Linked DNA regions of Homo sapiens: region 2 is linked to region 1. Evidence: fine-mapped expression QTL. Tissue or cell type: whole blood. Region 1 holds a variant in brackets; the other region holds the start of a gene. All regions are shown on one strand. Distances are between the middles of the regions.

Region 1 (11,002 bases):
TAGTAGGCATTTATAAAATATTTGAGGAATGAATACATGCTTCCTTAATATGGTAAATGAGACAGTGTGTGATAGTGCCATCCAAACTTCATTGTTATGCAAATGCTATATATGATTAATAATAATCACCCATCTAACTATGCTTAATAGGAAGTAAGATACTCTCCTTTACTGGGTGAGATCTGCATTTTTACAGTGGTTTCTTGAATCATTGCCCTTGTCTGTGCTTCCTGGAAGACCAAAGGTAGACTGTTTTCTGAATATTTCCAGGGAAAGAGAAAACCACCTTCTTTTGAAGTTCTATACCCTATTTAAAAATCTAACCCTAATCTAAACATTAGATTATCTCTAATTTTATGTTTAAAAATTTTAAGCCTCCCAGTTACAAATGCCAGTAATGTGCTGTCTTTATCTACAGAATAAGCATCATGAATAAAGCGCAAATGTATTGTAGAGAGCTGGAAGAGCCTCAGACACCAGGCAAGTAAATCAAAACAAAGTATTGTTAATGATTACCCTGGATACTTTAAGAAGAATGTAGAAGATCAATAGATCTACAGAACATTAATCCTTCTAGAAAATGTGAGCATCCTAGATTTTATTTGTTTAAGATTGATACAATTGAGTTATATTTTTGTGAGCCTAATGGAAGAGAATCATGTCATCTCTCAGGAAAGCAATCCTCTCAGCTGTGCTGACCAAGGTTCCTCTAATTCTTTCAACCAATGAAGTAGTTGATATATTCTTGTAAACTTTCTGCGGGCAATTTGTCCATTATTGGGCCTGAACTTGAACAGTTGGAGAAAGAAAGAAAAATTAAACAACTCCTCTTACATCAAAATAATATAACTGAGTCTCGTTTTAATAAAATCCTAGAGCACATCCTAGAGTCACCTAGCAAGTAACAGGTACTCAATAAATGCTCTTCTAGTAAATGGATGAAAATCTAAATTTGTGAAAAAGATCAATAAAACTGTGATCATTTACACTCCCAAAAGACTTATCTGCTCATTTGGTTTAGAATGCCGACTTTAAATGTGGATCTTTTCACTAGTATTACGGAATAAGAATGTGAGCTTTTTCTTTTGAAGTTACTTAGTCCTTTTCCCCATCTACAGGGTTATACTTATCACCTCAGCAGCTTATCACTTTATCTATCATGCATATGAAGAGAGGGCTTCTAGTTCCTGAATTTTCATAAGTACCAATACCTAATTTAAAAAAATAAAAATCTGCTGGACCACCATGATATATAGATTTAAAATGTGCTTTAATGTATTATGACTTAGCATACGTAGCTTTCCCTCCAACATCTGTATCCTGATTTGTAGTCTAATAAACCTTCCTGCTGCAGATGGCACGTTCATAGTTGTTCTGAGGTGTAATACATCAACATAGCATTTCTAAACAGAGAGCAATAATGAATTCAATTAGGGGAGGAAATAAAACATCGAGCCTTTTCTTATAATAAATCTTTTACTAAGCTTCCCACATCACATGTTTGCTGAGGAAATAATACATGTCATTCAGATTAAGGGTTATTGTAGACTGCTGAGGGAAACATGAAATTCTGGAGGTTTCAGCAGTCCTGTGAAACCCTGAAACATGGAAAGTGTACAAATTAGAAAAGGATGTAATATGTGACTAATGATACCTCTTGGGATACCTTTGGAAACCATATTTACTGTTATGATCACTAGATTCATTTAAGCTACAGGAGTTGAAAAGCAATACCCTAGTAAGTGAAAAACACCTCTGAGTTCATTAGATGTGGTTGTAATTTAAGCTCTAAAGGCCTTTTTCCTTGCTGTCATTCTTTATATTTCTGGAAATGTGGTACTTGAACTCCTAATAAAAGTAGTCTACATCATGTTCATATAATCTACAGTTCCTGGAAAGCACATTTACACCTCCACATCTGTAGCTAAAGCTGGGACAGAACAGAAACTTAATTCACCCCAGATGTCACCCACTAGAAGTTCTGGAGTAGGGCTGCTGTTCTTAGAATTTTCTATCCACTGATTATGTCTCAAGCAATGGTTTAAATATTCAACCCAGAGTCTCCAAGCCCAAATGTTGTAAACTGTTTCCATATACTATGCCAAGTGCAAAATTAATTGAATTCCACAAAGTTAATCCCCAATCCTGTTCCTTCATTTGTGGAAGGAAATAATGGCTATTTTGACATTATTTAGACAGATAATTCCAAGTCCTTTTGTCATAAGCATCTGAAAAAGAAATTTTGTTCTTCTGGCTTGGTAAGGTATCAGTCCATACTGCTTATAAAAAGATTACATGACAATTTCTTTGGAAAAAAAAAAGGTATATGTATATCATTTGGGCTGCTGATCACCAGCATAGCATGTGATGAATCAACATAATCAGACAGTCAATTTCTGTCTAATGATATTCTTAATCTGCAATAATATTCTTCGTTCTTTAGCTTTGAATTCTTCTACTCCTCAGTTGGTATGGAATCAGTGTTCCCATCCCCAGGTCATATACTTGATTGGAGGGGCTTTAACGGACAAAATAAGATCAGTGCTTTAACCATAGGCTTCTCCACAGTGAGCAGAAATCGAGGCGGGTACACCTTCATTCACACTCTAACCTATTTATAGTTTTTAGTTTTGCCTCTTAAATTCATGTATTTCTTGGCGTCTTGCTTAGAGTCACCTTTTTGACACATGAGTCCTGCCAGGTATGTGGGTTAGTGAGTCTGTACAATTTCTCAGGAGGCCTTGGTGATGCTGCAGCTTCTTAGTTGTAGTTCCAGGAAGGCTGCTGCAAGCACATTGCGCCTTATGAATACTGGAGCTTTCTCTAGAGAGAAACCATTTGTTGCTATGTCAGGTCAGATACAGAAGCCAGATTATCTAGGCTCAGTTGGTATAACTACTCATAAGAATTACTACTTATTAAGAATATCCTCAAGATTTATTAAGGGAACAATGTAAAAATGGCCATGTGAAAATAGTTTTGCGTTTTTGCAAAATTCCTGTTAAAGGCATTGCGCATCGTGTATTTAATAATAAATCTGAGGCCAGGCGCAGTGGCTCACACCTGTAATCCCAGCACTTTGGGAGGCCGAGGCAGGTAGATCACAAGGTCAGGAGTTCAAGACCAGCCTGGCCAAGATGGTGAAACCCCCATCTCTACTAAAAATACAAAAATTAGCCAGGTGTGGTGGCGGGCGCCTGTAATCCCAGTTACTCCAGAGGCTGAGGCAGGAGAATCGCTTGAACCCAAGTGGCAGAGGTTGCAGTGAGCAGAGATCGCGCCACTGCACTCCAGCCTGGGTGACAGAGCAAGACTCTGTCTCAAAAAAAATAAAAAATAAAATAAATCCGAGACTCATCCGCCCGACAAATTCCTCTCAAAATATGTCTCCTGAAAACCTGATGTGTATTTCTCTGTTAAACATTGAGATCTGTGAAACCCTTTGAATTCTCCCTTCTGTATTGACTAAAAGTTAGAGCTAAACTTCATGCTTAATGGTACTAATAATTTTATTCTAGTTTCCTGATATACATTTTCTTTCTCCTTCCTCTGTGGTGGTCTGTGGAATGGTGTTGGTGGTCTCTGAATGCCTGAGTTAGTATACAAAAGTGTGTGTTATGTGTTTTGTTTGTTTGTATATACTTATTTGCATTTTCTGGGGAAAGAGCACAAAGTTTTCATCAGATTCTCAAAGGGATGCATTATCTCCCCAAATTTAAGGACTATAATACTATCTGGTGTTTTATATTTCTGATCTCACCTTTAACTGTTCTGTCTTTATAACAATTATGTTTGCATTATAAACAACCTAAATCCTTTTTCTTTTTTTTTCTTTTTTTTCTTTTTTTGAGACAGAGTCTTGCTCTGTCGCCCAGGCTGGAGTGCAGTGGCATGATCTCAGCTTACTGCAAGCTTGGCCTCCCAGGTTCATGCCATTCTCCTGCCTCAGCCTCCCTAGTAGCTGGGACTACAGGCACCCGCCACCACTCCTGGCTAATTTTTTGTATTTTTAGTAGAGACAGGCTTTCACTGTGTTAGCCAGGATGGTGTCGATCTCCTGACCTTGTGCTCCACCTGCCTTGGCCTCCCAAAGTGCTGGGATTACAGGCGTGAGCCACCGTGCCCGGCCCCTAAATCCTTTTTCATGGGGAGAGAGGGAAGGAAAAGCTAGATGGCAGTAAAAATTAAACAAATACAAATACAACAGCATATTTTATTGTCAAGTACTCAGTCTGTTAGTAGGTATGATTTTGGGGGGCTTTCTCCCCACTAGAAATAATGGACTACATCGGTATGGTATACATCTATATGAAAATGTAATCTGATGTCTTTTAATTTTTTTTCCTGGCTTAAGAAAAAAAAAATTATCTAGACAGGTCTATCTAGAAGGTCTCCTATATGAAGCATCTCCTAAATACTATAGGGAGATTATGTACATAGAAAATTCCTTTACCATGTGACATTGATATACATATTGACTTGGGAAGGAAAAACTCCACTGTGTTGTACTTTTTTCTTTTTTTTTTTTTGAGGCTGAGTCTCACTGTGTTGCCCAGGCTGGACTGCGGTAGCGCCATCTCCGCTTACTGCAACCTCCGCCTCCCGAGTTCAAGTGATTCCCCCACTTCAGTCTCTCAAGTAGCTGGGGTTACAGGTGCCCACCACCACCCTTGGTGATTTTTTGAATTTTTAGTAGAGTCTGGGTTTCAGCATGTTGACCAGGCTGATCTCGAACTCTTGACTTCAGGTGATCTGCCTGCCTCAGCCTCCCAAAGTGCTGGTATTACAGGTGTGAGCCACCGTGCCTGGCCTGTGTTGTACATATTAATGTGAGATTTTAAAGACAACTCCACAGGACTTGCCTTGCTAATTTGGAATCTTGTTCAGAGAAAAAGACTTGATGAGAAAGGATCTCAGGAGATCAAATAGTAACACCATACCATTGGAGGAGCAGATATATTGCCCCTTAGAATAAAATATCTTCTATCTTGATTTTTCAAAATAATTTTTTATGAACATATTGTGAATTACACAGGACACCAACTCTGCTGCTTTGGGAGCAAAAAGACAGAGCTGACAGATGTAGATATTTGCCAGGAACAACCATGTGAATTTATAAATATTTTACAAGTGCAGCTTTCAGAAGAGTGACTTTTACTGCCGTATTAATGCAACTTGCAAATTTATAGTCTGGGCACTTGTGGGTTATGAATGTCCAGTATTCAAGGCTAGTGCCAAGAACATAGTTTATGTTTTGAAATTCTTTTTTTCTCTGATTACAGACTTCTTGGCTGTTAAGATCTACATTATAATTCAGCTGCACATGAGGTGCAAGGCTACATAATACATCAGTTTCCACTCCCAATGGCTAGACTCATAAATATACTCATTACAACACACTTCATGTGACAGAATGACATACAAAGCATAAAAATATCTCTATAGAGTAGAGAACTAGTGGTAGTAGAAGCAACAGTAGCATGATTCCATGCCTCTGGCCAGACCCATAATATGTGACCTAATATTATAATTATTTGTCATAATATAAAGAAAATTTGAATCATACGTTTTTAGAAATAATATCTTAGTATATATTAGATCAACACACTCATGAGTGTTGTCATATGTATTGAAGGCTACACTACTGAAAAGAATTTAGTTACTCTAATCTTTTGGCAGGGAGATTATGGAGGAAGAAGCACCACTGCAACTCTTTCCTTGTAAGTTTCTAAGTTGCTTTTCCACTGATTGTGCCCAAAGTAAAAGAGTCTTTCTAGCATTCCAGGCTCTGGAGAAAGAGAGCAGATTTATCTGGGCTTGAGCAAAAAACAGCCTGGGGTGAAATCTTAAAGGTGACCAGACTTTGGTCACATGTCAGAGGGTTCTCCTTTTTCAAGATGTTATTATGACCTAGGCAGAATTGTTGCTGTTGAAGAAAGTTAGCACTGTTGCCCAACCTTTCTGCCTTCC[A/G]TTAAGTAGCTCTGTTACCTTGTACACATCACTTCTCAGGTTCATAGTTCCTCTTCACTGAAATGTTGAAGTTGTGCCATATGATTGCAAAATTCTTTCCAGCTGTAATTTTTTTTTCTAATGCATGTGTGCCAACATATGCAGATATTGATTAACAATACATTATAATCTTCAATATTAGTTATTTTATCAGTGTGCACATTTTCATTCTCTGAAACCCATCAGTGGCAAAATGCTTCACTGTTTTACTCCCCAATGTCCACCATTTCTTGCTCTGTATTAAGATTGTGTATTATTCCTAATAATCATTGGGACCAGATGTGGTGGCTCATGCCTGTAATCTCCGTAATTTGGGAGGTCAAGGCAGGAGGATTCCTTGAGCCCAGGAGTTTGAGGCCAGCCTAGGCAACATGGCAAAACTCCATCTCTACAAAAAATACAAAAATTAGCCAGGCATGGTAATGCATGCCTGTTATCCCAGCTGAGGTGGGAGGATTGCTTGAGCCCAGGAGGTCAAGGCTGCAGTGAGCTGTGATCGAGCCATTGCACTCCAGCATGGGTGACAGAACAAGACCCTGTCTAAAAAAAAAAAAAAAGAGGTTATCAGGAGTGTAAACTTAAATAATGGGGAATCTTGTGTTCTTACAAAAAAATTTGTGATTAGTTCAGTGAGTAAAGCTTTTCCAAATTACCAAAGCTAAATAAATAAATAATCCTTGTTTATTCCAAGGCTTAATCCTACTGAGGCCCCCAACCTGATTCCTGATTAATCACGCAGCAGACAGCAGCTTCTTCTTCTTCTTCTTTTTTTTTTTTTTTGGAGACGGAGTCTTGCTGTCTTGCTGTGTCACCCAGGCTGGAGTGCAGTGGCGCGATCTCTGCTCACTGCAACCTCCGCCTCCCGGGTTCAAGTGATTCTTCTGCTTCAGCCTCCCGAGTAGCTGGGAATACAGGCATGCTCCACCATGCCCGGCTAATTTTTGTACTTTCAGTAGAGATGGGGTTTCACCATGTTGGCCAAGCTGGTCTCCAACTCCTGACCTCATGATCCACCCACCTCTGCCTCCCCAAGTGCTGGGATTACAGGCATGAACCACCATGCCTGGCCAGCAAACTGCTTCTTATTAGCTGACCTTATACATTTCAATGAAACAGACTGTGAAAAATGACACATACACACAGATCCCAGGCAGTAATTATATTAAAAAATACTTTGTTAATTGTTTTACAGGCACCATTAGCCTTAAGAATAAAATTCCGTCAACAGCAAATCCTTTTTCTTTCATTTGCTTCTAATCTAAGGGATAAACATAGTCAAATGCTGTTATTGTTACCCAGGAAAATTTCAGCTTTAAAACTGATTGAATCCATTTTTTTTTATCTTATTATCTTAGAACATAGCAATTTTAAAGAACACAGGTAGAATGATAGCAGTCCATGATCCAGACAGTGTCATATATCCCTTGTTTGTTTTCTTTCTTTTCTCTTTATCTTTATCCTGAAATTTCCTTTCTGTTCTACTGTGAAAGTAAAAATCTGAAAGGAAAATAATTACCTATTGATACTCTTCTAACACAGCCACATGTTCACGTGATAAATGAAACATTACCACACAAAACTGCTAAAATGACATTCTTATTGGAGGTCCAATTTACTTAATTTTATGTCTTCCAACTGTTAAGACAAGGGTCACTCATTCTGTAAAATTAATGGCTGAAATAAATTTAGAATTTAAAAAGCATAAGGAAAATATTTCTTTGCCCAATGTATGGCCAACCTGTGGAATTTATTAGCCTGGGAGGTCATAGATTCAGTCAAGAGATGAATTAGAAAAGCTAGATAATTGTATGACCAGTCATAATACTGTTAGTTATGAATACTAACAAAAGGTACTAATAGAATCTCATGCTTCAGGGTACAAGCTGATCTCCGCTCACTAGGAGCTTTGAAGGACTTCTCTTATTTCCTTATGATGCTCCTCTGAGCAAGTGGCTGGATTCACATTGAGGTTTTACCTCTTTTTGAAAGTAACTACTATTGGGAACAGGATACCACATTTAGGTCACATTGGGGTTTTGTTGTTGTTGTTTGTGCAACAGCATCTTGCTCTGTCACCCAGGCTGGAATGCGGTGGGGCGATCATGACTCACTGCAGCCTTGACCTCCTAGGCTGAAGTGATCTTCCTGCTTCAGCCTCCTGAAGTGCTGGGATTACAGGCATGAGCCACTATGCCTGGCCTGTGTTTTTTGTTTTTTGGCAATGAAAACCACAAATGTCTGCTAATACGATACAAAAAGAGCAATGAAATGATACGTGAGTTTAAACTTTTTAAAGAGTTTATTCATTAATTCAATAAATATTTATTGAGGGCCTATCATGAACCTATCACTGTCCTAGGTGTTTGGAATACAACAAGGAGAAAAACAGAGAAAAATCCTTGCTTTCATGAAAATCCCCCCCATTATTTTGTTCCAAGGTATCAGTATTGAAGTTTATGATCTTGTGATCTGCAGTTAGTTTAGAAGTGGATAAGGTGCAGCATTTCAGGTGCAGCTCCTCTTGAAGCTATCTGCCCCCATACCCTACTTAAAATAGAGCGACAAATACTCTCATTTAAAGAAGGGAAGAAATGAGAGATATGTAACAGTTAGTAGTCCATAAAAATTCTGAAGTCTAGCTTGTCAGATGTTGCTGGGGTCCCTCTATTCAAGAAGCAGAGAACGTTTTTTGATTAGGCTTCAGTTCTTCCAAGGCTCAATTCTATAACTTACTGTCCTCTGATGTTCTTCTCAGAGGAAGGAGGTTTGTTGTACTATGGGCTCTTTTCTCTACCCTCTGAGACACTCTTAGTTTTCAATAAAAAATAGCTCATATTTGCAGGTGGGTGGCTTTCTTAGCCTGCTCTCTGTATGTGAAAATTTGGAGGCCCAGAGAAATCTTCTCATTTTGAACTTTTTTTTTTGTCCAAGCTTGCAGGGATTTTTATCAGTCTAACTCTTTTAAAAACTTTTTGGAACTTTGTGGACCTCCTATGAATATGGTTTGGGCCTATTCCATGCCCTAAAGACCACATCACTAATTATTTTTGAGAAAGTCACTCTCATCTTTGGGCCGTATACCAGGCTGCTGTGATACATCCTTAAGATTGTAGGCACCACCGACTGGGCGTGGTGGCTCACGCCTGTAATCCCAGCACTCTGGGAGGCTGAAGTGGGCAGATCACGAAATCAAGAGATCGAGACCATTCTGGCCAACATGGTGAAACCCCATCTCTACTAAAAATACAAAAATTAGCTGGGCGTGGTGGCCTCCCAAGTAGTCCCAGCTACTTGGGAAGCTGAGGCAGGAGAATCGCTTGATCCCGAGAGGTGGAGGTTGCAATGAGCCGAGATCGCACCACTGCACTCCAGCCTGGCTACAGAGCAAGACCCCATCTCAAAAAAAAAAAAAAAAAGATTCTAGGCACCACCTTACACCATTCAGTTGTTTAACAAGGGGCCTTTCAGCCACACCCTTGATCTGGATTTTCACTGTGAAGTCATTTCCTTTCTTTTTTTTTTTTTTTTTTTTTTTTTTGAGACAGGGTCTTGCTCTGTTGCCAAGACAGGAGTGCAGTGCCATGATCATAGCTCACTGTAACCTCAAATTCCTGGCCTCAAATGATCATCTCACCTTGGCTTCCCAAAGTGCTGGGATTACAGGCATGAGCCACTACACCCAGCCAGTCATTTATTACTTTGAGAATCTTTTAATGGCTAGAGAGACCAGAAATATGAAGGGTCTTTCCCCCAGCTCTCAAGTCCTGGCTCCTTTATATTGCTTATGAACTCTGCAGGAAAACTGCACAGTTCTTTCTTTAGCTCTCTCTTGTTTTTGTATGTTATCTTATACAATTAAAAAACATCTATTCCTTCAATATTTTGCCTGGGAATCTCCTTAGCTGATTCTCTAATCCACTGGGTAAATTCCCTTCCCCTTCCCCTTCCCCTTCCCCTTCCCCTTCCCCTCCCCTCCCCTTCCCCTCCGTTCCCCTCCCTTCCCCTCCCCTTTCTTTTCTTTCTTTCTTTCTTTCTTTCTTTCTTTCTTTCTTTCTTTCTTTCTTTCTTTCTTTCTTTCTTTCTTTCTTTTTCTTTCTTTCTTTCTCTTTCTTCTTTCTTTCTCTCTTTCTCTCTTTTTATTTTTTTTTCCTTTAGAGTCTCATTCTGTTGCCCAGGCTGGGGTGCAGTGGCACGATCTCGGCTCACTGCAAACTCCACCTCTCGGGTTCAAGCGATTCTCCTGCCTCAGCCTCCTGAGGAGCTGGGATTACAGGCACCCGCCATCACGCCTGGCTAATTTTTGTATTTTTTCAGTAGAGATGGGGTTTCACCATGTTGGCTAGGTTGGTCTCCAACTCCTGACCTCAGCTGATCTGCCTGCCTCGGCCTCCCAAAGTGCTGGGATGACAGGTGTGAACCACCATACCTGGCCCATCGGGTAAATTTTCTATCTTCCATATTATCATAGGCAACAGTTTTGCTATTGTTGCACTACTATATAATACAGATTGCCATTTTTCCTGAGTGCTATAGCAGTTTCTTACCACTTTTCTTGCTCCTAACAATTTATTCTCTATTTTCTCAATTTTGGCTAACAGTTTTCCTGTCACTTGTCCAGCCTCTATCCATCACCTTGTCCCAAAGCTAATGCTACATATTTCAGGTTGCTGTAACAGCAGCACTTCAGTCCTAGTACCATTTTCTTTATCAGTTAGCTTTTGCACCATAATAAACTATCCAAAGCTTTGTGAATTATAATAATATCTATTATTTCTCACAGTTTTGTGGGTTGACTGTGTATTTCTTCCATCAAAAAAGATAGCTAGATTGTCTAGGATGGTTCCACACATGTCTGGTGATTGTTCTATGTCTGGTGAAGTGATAGCCATGTATCTATCATCATTAGTAGGGCTAGTTCAGGCTCATCCATATGGTACAAACTCATAGTGCACAAAGTCATCGTGGTACAAAGTCACATATGCAAATTTGTGGG
Region 2 (5,000 bases), 180 kb before region 1:
TAGTCATAATTCATTTTTATTGCTCTTTTAAAACAACAGCTTGGCTGAGCCGCGGATGCCATGAACAGTTCAGGGCCTCGGCGTCATTTTATCTCCTCCTTATTCCTTTCCTTTCTAGCATAAGAGCCCTGAAAGAGGCGTTTTGAGCCAAGAGAACCGCTTGTAGGCGATCATTTTAAGCGTAACCAAGCTCGCCTTTCACCCAGTCTCCCAAGGCGTTGAAAGAGACCAGCTCCAGTCTTGGGGCGCTGACCTACTTGCCTAGAGGGCCAAGGATCTCCTACTCGGTGGAACGGCCCCCAGAATTTCTTGGGGGAGGGGTGTGGGGAAAGAACTGAGCTACAGAAGCCTAAGGGCTAGAGGCCAGGGGAGGCTGCCTTTGTGTGCTGTTCCCGGGGAGCGGCGCTCTGGGCTGCCAGGCGAGGCATAGCCAGCCCGGCTGCGAGCACCCGGCCTGCGGGGAGCCGGGAACAGTAAGCGGAGAAGGGCGGCCGCCGGGCCTGTGTGTCTGCGGGCCTGTGTGCGAGTGCAAGCTCGTGATCCCAAGAAAAACACTCCACCCAGGATGCCCCAGAAAAGAGGCCAGGAGAGAAGAAGAGAGGCTGAGGGAGAGCAGGGCCGAGGCAGCGAACTAGCAGAGAGAGTGGCTCCTGCCGGGGTCGGCTTTGTGGCAGGCGCCCTGCAGCCGAGGGGGTCCTGCAAACCCAGGCTGAGGAGGGCAACCAAGGTACAGGAATGAGGCAGCGGGGGAAAATGTACCGACTTGCTCAGGCTTGGAGGGAGGATTGCTCGCATAGCCAGCACCGACCTACTCACATCCTGCCCCCTCTCCCACAGGAGCTCCTTCTCTCCCCGCCGCTGGAAGCTGGTGCTCCCAAGGAAGCCGCCTCCAGGAGGACTGCCTTGCCTTTCCCCTTCTCCAGTCGGAGGATTCCCAGGAGCCGAAACTGGGGCAGGGGTGGCTGCCCAACCCCAGAAAGTGGGCCTTTCCTGCCCGTGCTCCCTCTTAACCATGCTTGGGATGGATCAAAGTCACAAATACTATTCTGAAAGGAAATGTTTGGGGAGAATGTTTCATTGTTACTGAGGGAGTCCAGAGTCAGCATGGGTTTTTTCTCTTGAGAGGACAGGTTTGGGGGAACTTCGGTACGTGGAGAACAGAATACAGAAGACTGAAAGGGTGACTAACATATTTGAAATGTACCTTCCTTGAAAAAAAAAAAACCTTCCTTGTTCTAACGGGAGGAAAGGCTGAAGAGGAGTGGAAACCCCAAACCCACATACATTCATTCACTATAAATTTCATCTGATTCCAACATTGTACACATGGTTGGAGTAAAATTTATACAGCATTGCTTATAATTTATACAGCAAAGCTTCCTGGACAAGCTCTCGATTTCTCCTACCCAAGACTGCATCAATTCTTGGTCTCCGTTTGGCTTTTTCTCTCTACAAGCCCAGGGTTGACGTGAAACCTAATAGTAAACAACAATTTAACGACCTCAGCAGCCTCAGGGAAGTAGGGTGATGAGGAACAGGACCCCTGGCCTGGGATGAGGCTCAGATTTGCATGTGTCTCTCTAGGGAAGGACTTGAAGGTTCTCATAAGCAACTACACAGCCAGTTGGAAAGGGGAGGAGGTGTCGTTGGGGTAAAGTGTCCCGTCCACCATCAGCCATTTGTCCACCGCCCCTCCCACCTGCCAGCCCCCACACCCACTCTAGACGTGCAGCAGAATGAGGAAGGTTATAAAAGGAAGCTCTCTCTCTCTTCTAACATTCCCCTCCAGAAAAAGAGGAACGCAACGAAGGGAGTTCAGCTACTATGTTGGAGCTGTGGACCGGCCCTGTGAGGCCCACGCGGGAGCGCGGAGGCTCCTGGGTCTCAGGGCGCCGGCAGATGGCCTGCAGCGCACCGCCCGGCCCCCGCGCTGGCCACGTCCGCCAGCGTCATCTCTCTCCCCCGCCTCCTACCCCTAAAAATCCGGCGGTCGAGTAGCTCCGCATCCCGGAGGGCTCCCGGTGCAAAACTGAGTGGGAAAGAGAAAGGGGCGGAGAGCGACGAGAGAGGGAAGGTGGGGAAGAAGAGCCCGGCCGCCCCCGGCCTTTTCCGGCGAGCTCTGAGTTTCCAGGGCTCATCCGCCCCTCCAAGTCGAATTACAGAAACTCCTCATTGCCATGCTAATGACGAGAGGGGCTGTGGGGAGAGGGTTTCGAAGACCCTCCTGGAAGAAGGGAAGTTTCTTTTCTTGCCCTCGTCTCCTTCACGCCCACCCGAGTTCCTCCCAGCCAGCCCTCTGCGCTCTTCCCCCTCCATTCCGAGCTTGAAGAGCCGGTGGCCCAGCCTCGCCCTCCACCACGGTTCTATGCGCTCCTCACAGCCCCACGGTCTCCCAGCCCAGCCTCAGAACAGAGGAGGTGGCCTGGGAACCCGGGGCGCGGTGTCAGCCGGATTCCCCGCCTTCCGGCTGGGCGCGCTGCGGGCTGGGCCGGCGTACTTGCGGCCACCCGGCGAGCTCTGGCCCACTGATTCCCGCCCCGAGAGAGCCGGGAGCCCTCTTCCCTTCTCACCTCTCGCCAGTTCATCTTTCATTGAACGGTGGGGAGGGGGCGGGAGCGGGGGACGCCTCCCAGCCCCCACCTCCCGGAGGCCTGGCGGGGCGGGCAGCGGAGTCGGGCGCGCGCAGAACGCAGCTTTTGCTCTTCTTCGCTCCAGCACTCCAAATCGGCCTTTGCAGTCGCCGCAGCAGCTGCCGCCGCCTAGGCTGCCTGGGGGGGCGACTGCGCGTCACCTAGACGGCGGAGCGCCGGGGATTTAAATGCCACTAAAACGGTGATCCATCACTGCGGAAGCCGGCAAACTTTTGCAGGAGGCTCAGCCATTGGCTGACACCGTCACGTGCCCCTCCTCCAGCGTCCTCCGCCCTCCCGCCCCCCCTCTTGCGCACTGTACATTCATATCATTTTTCTTCTCCGGCCCCATGGAGGAAGTGAGAAAGTTGGCACAGTCACGCCGGGCTTCGCAGGACCAGGTCACTCAGTGACAGATGGACAATGCAAGAATGAACTCCTTCCTGGAATACCCCATACTTAGCAGTGGCGACTCGGGGACCTGCTCAGCCCGAGCCTACCCCTCGGACCATAGGATTACAACTTTCCAGTCGTGCGCGGTCAGCGCCAACAGTTGCGGCGGCGACGACCGCTTCCTAGTGGGCAGGGGGGTGCAGATCGGTTCGCCCCACCACCACCACCACCACCACCATCGCCACCCCCAGCCGGCTACCTACCAGACTTCCGGGAACCTGGGGGTGTCCTACTCCCACTCAAGTTGTGGTCCAAGCTATGGCTCACAGAACTTCAGTGCGCCTTACAGCCCCTACGCGTTAAATCAGGAAGCAGACGTAAGTGGTGGGTACCCCCAGTGCGCTCCCGCTGTTTACTCTGGAAATCTCTCATCTCCCATGGTCCAGCATCACCACCACCACCAGGGTTATGCTGGGGGCGCGGTGGGCTCGCCTCAATACATTCACCACTCATATGGACAGGAGCACCAGAGCCTGGCCCTGGCTACGTATAATAACTCCTTGTCCCCTCTCCACGCCAGCCACCAAGAAGCCTGTCGCTCCCCCGCATCGGAGACATCTTCTCCAGCGCAGACTTTTGACTGGATGAAAGTCAAAAGAAACCCTCCCAAAACAGGTCAGTCCTGCTGGTTGGTGGATGCTCCTTGATTATTCTGGAAGGAGCTGGTATGCTTAATTTCCAAGGAAATTAATAATGATCTTTTTTTTAAAAGGCTTTTGTATCAGACTAGTGTTGTAGTGCATGGAGAGGGTGCCCAGAGGTGTTGGGGCAAAGAAGTCTCAGGGATTGGTGTGTTTTCAAGGATTTTATACATTTGGGAAATAGGAAGTATGTGGGGGTGGTTATTGTGACGGTAGTGTTCTGTTAATATCTTGAGGCTCCATTAATCACCGGTCTGACCATGCTAATGGTTTACATCAGGTTAACACTTTACACCTCATCACTCACCCTCCACAGCCCGATTTGTGCTGAGTTCTTGATCTTTTCTTTACCTGAGTGTTGCCATGAAGCGTGTGGGGAATCTCAAGTCGATTTAAAAATTTTTACATTTCCGTCTCATGGCTTCCCACTTTGCCCCAGGGAAAGTTGGAGAGTACGGCTACCTGGGTCAACCCAACGCGGTGCGCACCAACTTCACTACCAAGCAGCTCACGGAACTGGAGAAGGAGTTCCACTTCAACAAGTACCTGACGCGCGCCCGCAGGGTGGAGATCGCTGCATCCCTGCAGCTCAACGAGACCCAAGTGAAGATCTGGTTCCAGAACCGCCGAATGAAGCAAAAGAAACGTGAGAAGGAGGGTCTCTTGCCCATCTCTCCGGCCACCCCGCCAGGAAACGACGAGAAGGCCGAGGAATCCTCAGAGAAGTCCAGCTCTTCGCCCTGCGTTCCTTCCCCGGGGTCTTCTACCTCAGACACTCTGACTACCTCCCACTGAGGCGGCTCCAGCCCCAGACAACAGCCCAGGCATCTCCTTGGGCTGGGACTTCTTACCCAAAGCACATGCTTAGCTTATCTTTCTTTCCATTTACAGTCTCTTTCTTCCTTTCTAATCCTATCTGGGGAGCTCCTGGCCAGGATAATATATTTGCAGATAATTCTGGACCAGAGACTTGGTGCGGGGTTAACACCTTCATCCAGATTGGGTGCCAGCATACATTTTCTGGTGGGCCTTAACATCCCTCCTGCTTTTAGGAGAATTCACAGAACCTACTGTTCCTTTCAGATGACCTTTTGGAAAATAGTTCCCTTTGCCAACAGAAACATGCCAGAAGGAATCTTCTCATCTTTTATCTAACTATATGTACAGCTCTCCCCTCCCTTGTCCTTGAAAGTAGGATATAGCGAAAGGCGAGTCCAGGAGCTCAGGAAGAAGAGATGCACTATATGTTTACACAATTAATTCATCCCTTAATTTA

The links. PIP is the estimated chance that this variant, and not a neighbour inherited with it, causes the effect.
Region 2: HOTAIRM1 starts here. The variant in region 1 is fine-mapped to the expression of HOTAIRM1 in whole blood (INTERVAL, PIP above 0.99).

Annotation. Positions count from the first base shown.
Region 1 is chr7:26,907,489-26,918,490 of GRCh38, reverse strand. No RefSeq gene overlaps it. Among named protein-coding and RNA genes, the nearest start is that of SKAP2, 48 kb to the right of the region's middle. The variant A/G (reference allele first, on the strand shown) is at 5,971.
Region 2 is chr7:27,093,959-27,098,958 of GRCh38, reverse strand. It overlaps HOTAIRM1 (HOXA transcript antisense RNA, myeloid-specific 1), which reads right to left and starts at 2,865. Exons shown (of 2, transcript NR_038367.1): 1 at 2,571-2,865. HOXA1 (homeobox A1) reads left to right here and starts at 2,959. Exons shown (of 2, transcript NM_005522.5): 1 at 2,959-3,698; 2 at 4,164-5,000. The coding sequence starts at 3,047. The coding sequence ends at 4,519. RefSeq lists enhancers at 1,997-2,569, 2,695-2,989, 3,871-4,371, 4,372-4,872 and a silencer at 2,473-2,642.